Regions from separate parts of the Homo sapiens genome. Here region 1 is linked to region 2. The links come from fine-mapping of genetic effects on gene expression. Tissue or cell type: whole blood. Region 2 holds a variant in brackets; the other region holds the start of a gene. All regions are shown on one strand. Distances are from middle to middle.

The links. PIP is the estimated chance that this variant, and not a neighbour inherited with it, causes the effect.
Region 1: it holds the start of ABCC10, and the variant in region 2 is fine-mapped to the expression of ABCC10 in whole blood (TOPMed, PIP above 0.99).

Annotation. Positions count from the first base shown.
Region 1 is chr6:43,426,274-43,428,954 of GRCh38, reverse strand. ABCC10 (ATP binding cassette subfamily C member 10) reads right to left here and starts at 1,414. Exons shown (of 22, transcript NM_001198934.2): 1 at 1,198-1,414; 2 at 816-987. The coding sequence starts at 976. RefSeq lists an enhancer at 768-837.
Region 2 is chr6:43,450,774-43,453,454 of GRCh38, reverse strand. It overlaps DLK2 (delta like non-canonical Notch ligand 2), which reads left to right. Exons shown (of 6, transcript NM_023932.4): 4 at 320-450; 5 at 1,371-1,515; 6 at 2,181-2,681. It also overlaps a transcript of ABCC10 not described here. Among named protein-coding and RNA genes, the nearest start is that of DLK2, 3.4 kb to the left of the region's middle. The variant G/T (reference allele first, on the strand shown) is at 1,547.

The DNA of each region.
Region 1 (2,681 bases), 24 kb after region 2:
TTACACAGAGACAAAAGTCTAGAAGGGTTTAATCACCTAGCATAGACAGCCTTCTCAGAAGAGCAGCTATTAAAAATTGGCACAGTCTTTTGGGAACTCAGTCTAATGAGAAAGCAAGAAAGACCTCTTGGATAGAGACACTTCCCCCCATCAGACTAGGAACTCCCAAAGGCAGAGACCACACCGTCCTCCTATCTTCTCGGCAGCCAGAATGAGACTAACTTTAGTCATCTCTAGCCATACAAGAACTAAATACAAAATCAAGTTGAGTTTAGCATCCACACCTTATAGCCCTTAATTGGGGAAGGCTTAATGTTTGATTTTGCTCTTCTTGTCTATCTACTGCTTCCTCTTCAGCTGAGCCTAGGTATGCTTTTCTTAATCTGGAAACACTAAGGTTTCATGGGTTGCAGTGGTGAGAAACTGAGCCTACAACTTAAACACATCATCGCTTTTGGCTAAAAACGTTGTTCCCCCAATTCTGCCTCCAATTCATGACAGCTGAGTCCGGGTAGCTGAAAATGGACAATTCTGATGATTTCTGATACTCATCGGACCTTTAAAAACATGCCAGGCGCTGCACTATATGCTTAAATTCATTATCTCATTTAAACCTCCCAACAATGAGACTCAGAGAAGGCAGGTACTTGCCCAAGAACAGCCACATTGCTGCTAAGTAGCAATGCTTAGATTTTATTCTACTTCTGCCCTACTCCAGAGACCTCGCTATTCTGGTGACACTGCCGGAAGATGTAGGCCGCGGGTGAGATCTGCAGGCACACATGGACAGATGCCTTGCGCCCGTCTCTACCCACCTCGGGGTGCCCAAGTAACAGGCACTGAGCACGGCGAGGAGCGCGTGGGGCAGGGCGCTGAGCACCAGCTGGGTGAAGCAGTGGCCTGTGGTGTCCCCCTCCCACAGCGGGAGCGGCCACGCTGCGCTGCTGCCGCACAGCTGGGCCAGAAGTCGTTCCATGGACGCCTCACCTGAAGGGAAAGTTGAGGGTGACGGCTGTGCAGGGTAACAGCCGGCTTTGCCTGCACTTCCCAGCCGGGTCTCCCTGTCTCCAGCCCCGCCCTGGAACCGGGACCGCCCGTCGCTTCCGCCCCGAAGCCAGACCCCGCCCATTCTCGCGGTACCAAGGGTAAAAACGGGAGGAGGTTTCCCCAGTGGATTTCTGGACGCTGGTCACCCACCTTGCCATCTGTTTTTCCCCTCCCGTTTCTCCGCCCCCAGGCATCCGGAACCTCAAACCTGAAGAAGCTGCTGTGCACCGGATTCCGATATCCTGAGAACTGGTGTATGCAAAAAAAAAAAAAGTACTGCCCGGCCGGGGTGCTGGGCCCGCCCCGGCTGGCACCCCACCTAGAGGTTGGAAGACCTAGCCGGCGCTATTCGCCACGCCCATATGCTGGTAGCTGCACGCATGTGCACTGCTCTCTGCTTCGGCTGGCCTTTGCACGCAGGCGCGCTGGTGCAGACGCACAGTTGCGTTTTGGTACGCTTTTGTGGCCTGACTTGCGTTAAGGATCCATCCCTCCCTTAGTGCAACGTCATTTATAACCTCTCACGTGGAGTATTCGCTCACAACTGTGTAAGCTTACTAGTTGGCACAAGCATTGCAATCTCCATTTCTTGAAGAGGTGGGGAGCCGGGCACGGTTGCGCGCCTCGGTAGTCCCTGCGCGCCCGTAGTCTCTGCGCGCCGGTAGATCCCAGGAGGATGGCCTGAGCCCAGGAGTTCGAGAACAGTCCAAGCAGCATAGCGAGACCCCAGTCTCAGATAGATAGATGGATGGATGGAAATTCAAACATACCTGCCCCACGGACAAATAATGCCATTTTGGGACACACTGTTTTCCCTTATTATTCTAGGGCTGCATGACCTTGGACAAGTTACCTAACTTTTTTGAGCCTCAACTTTTTTTTGGGGGGGGGACGGAGTCTCGCTCTGTCACCAGGCTGGAGTGCAGTGGCACAATCTCGGTTCACTGCAACCTCCGCCTCCCGGGTTAAAGCGATTCTCCTGCCTCAGCCTCCCGAGTAGCTGGGACTACAGGCGCGCGCAACCACGCCCAGCCAATTTTTTTGTTCGTATTTTTAGTAGAGACGGGGTTTCACCATGTTGGCAAGGATGGTCTCGATCTCCTGACCTCGTGATCCGTCCGCCTTGGCCTTCCGAAGAGCCGGGATTACAGGCGTGAGCCACCACCCCGGCCGAGCCTCAACTTCTTTATTTGTACAACAGGGACAATACCAATACTAAAGTACTGTTGAGAGAGTTGAATAATTAATTTAGAGTGCTTAGGGCAAGTGCTTTGCCTAGGGTAGTCCTCCAATAAATCTTTTAAGGAAGCAGTGGGAAGAACATAACCTTTATAATTATACGGACCTGGGTTTGAATGCTTTTAGCAGAGGGATGTTGGGCAGGTTACTTCTGCATCTTTATTTTATTATGTTTGTCAGGCATGGTGTTGGTATCCGCCTTTACATAGGTGTGTACAGTGCTTGAAGAAGAAAAGCTAAACAAATGACAATTATGGTTATCCCACTTAATCTCAGTAAGAAGCCCCATATCCCTCAACGTCAAGAATTAATTTTCCTATTTTTAAAAACTAAGAGATGTAGGTTTGCATTTCACAATCTTTAGTAATTAATTAACAGAGTCTTGCTACCTGGCC
Region 2 (2,681 bases):
CCAGGAGGGGTACTGGAGGCATTTACAGACATCTTATTTCTTCCTCTACTCAACCCTGCAAGGTGTATCCCCAATTTACAGGTGAGAAAACTGAGGCTCAGGTTAAAGTACAGAACCAGGGTTTGAGTGCTGGTGTCTGATGGTCTGATTCCGTATATGTGTCCTATGACCCTGCACAGTCCTACACCTACCTGGGACAGGTCTGCTTTCCCTTAGGGGCTGTCATATGTCCTCTTGGTTTCTAGAAGCTCTGGTTCTGTCTCCTCCATTTCTTCACATCCATGACCCAGAGCCCTGACCCTGTGCTTCTCCCCGTCAGGTGTGACCCGGGCTGGGAGGGGCTGCACTGTGAGCGCTGTGTGAGGATGCCTGGCTGCCAGCACGGTACCTGCCACCAGCCATGGCAGTGCATCTGCCACAGTGGCTGGGCAGGCAAGTTCTGTGACAAAGGTAGGGGGGAGGAAGGGTAGCTTTTGGTTGGGAACCCCATGTTCTTAGGGGAACAGCCATCAGTATTTATTGAGTGCCTATTTTGTCCTTGTCAAACCCTCAAATACATGGTATTTTATCATTTTTTTAAATCTTAGACTTTTTATATGTTGTCTGAATTGATCCTCAACATAACCCCATGGGGCAGGAAACACAGCTGCTAAAAATTGTACTCATTTTACAGATGAGGAAACTAAGGCCCACAGAAGAGCTATAACCTGCTCAAAGTCAGGTTTTTTTGTTTGTTTTGTTTTGAGATGGAGTCTCACTCTGTCACCCAGGCTGGAGTGCAGTGGTGCGATCTCGGCTCACTGTAACCTCCGCCTCCTGGGTTCAAGTGATTCTCGTGCCTCAGCCTCCCCAGTAGCTGGAATTACAGGCACCCGCCACTTCAGCTAATTTTTGTATTTTTAGTAGAGATAGGGTTTCACCATGTTGGCCAGGCTGGTCTCGAACTCCTGACCTCAAGTGATCCACCCGCCTTGGCCTCCCAAAGTGCTGGAATTATAGGCATGAGCCACTGTACCGGCCTAATGTTTGTATTTTTAGTAGAGATGGGGTTTTGCCATGTTGGCCAGGCTGGTCTTGAACTCCTGACCTCAAGTCATCTGCCCACCTTGGTCTTCCAAAGTGCTGGGATTACAGGCATGAGCCACAGTACCCAGCCCAAGGTCAGTTTGAGACAGACTGAGAGCCAGGGCCAGGAGCCTCCTGACTCCAAATTCAGTGTTGTTGTCTCTCCCTAGCATACCACGCCAGCCTGGGCTGGGTTTGTAGTATAGCCACACCTACAGAACCTGGGGCCTGGAAGGCGTGGACAAGTCTGGTCTGGGGACCAGATGGGAGGGGTTATCCCAGAGCCTTTCCTGTCCCCTCTCCAGATGAACATATCTGTACCACGCAGTCCCCCTGCCAGAATGGAGGCCAGTGCATGTATGACGGGGGCGGTGAGTACCATTGTGTGTGCTTACCAGGCTTCCATGGGCGTGACTGCGAGCGCAAGGCTGGACCCTGTGAACAGGCAGGGTGAGTGCTGGGCCCTCAGGGTGAGTGGAAG[G/T]TTAGACCAGAACCTGGTGATGGGATGAGAAAAGAGGCAGGACTGTTGGGAGGGTGGGGGACTGAGAGTCAGACCCACACGGGGACACTCAGATAAAACCCCTGCATGCCAAAGTGTTCCTAGTTCAGGGTTTCTCAACTTTTTTTTTTGTACCTTCTGAGCCATTTCTTCAACAATCTATAGGAGCTAGAGGGGTAACAAACGTGTGACTGTTCTGGTTGGGGAGGGTGGGTGTGGGGAGACTGAAGGGCCTGGGTCTCTCCTCATCCTCTCCTGAACGCTGGCTTGCACCCTTCTGTGTCACAGTAGGGATGAGGAAACAGCCTGCAGGGCTGGACTTGTCCTCATTTCTGCATCAGGCCCAGGAGCCTGTGAGGATAATAATAGCACACTTACCCTGAGCCCTGCCTTCTGGCTGGGCCCTGTGCTAATGGCTTGACATTGATTATTTCACTCAACCCTCACAATTAGGGAAGCTGGGTACTATTTTTATTCTCATTTTTAAAATGAGGTATTTGAGGCTCGGAGTGTGTAGCCCAAGATGACATGGCGGGCAGTGGTCAGGATACTGACCTGGGCTGCCCTACAGGTGTTGGTAAGTTGGTTATCATGTCCTCTCTCACCCCTACCACAGCTCCCCATGCCGCAATGGCGGGCAGTGCCAGGACGACCAGGGCTTTGCTCTCAACTTCACGTGCCGCTGCTTGGTGGGCTTTGTGGGTGCCCGCTGTGAGGTAAATGTGGATGACTGCCTGATGCGGCCTTGTGCTAACGGTGCCACCTGCCTTGACGGCATAAACCGCTTCTCCTGCCTCTGTCCTGAGGGCTTTGCTGGACGCTTCTGCACCATCAACCTGGATGACTGTGCCAGCCGCCCATGCCAGAGAGGGGCCCGCTGTCGGGACCGTGTCCACGACTTCGACTGCCTCTGCCCCAGTGGCTATGGTGGCAAGACCTGTGAGCTTGTCTTACCTGTCCCAGACCCCCCAACCACAGTGGACACCCCTCTAGGGCCCACCTCAGCTGTAGTGGTACCTGCCACGGGGCCAGCCCCCCACAGCGCAGGGGCTGGTCTGCTGCGGATCTCAGTGAAGGAGGTGGTGCGGAGGCAAGAGGCTGGGCTAGGTGAGCCTAG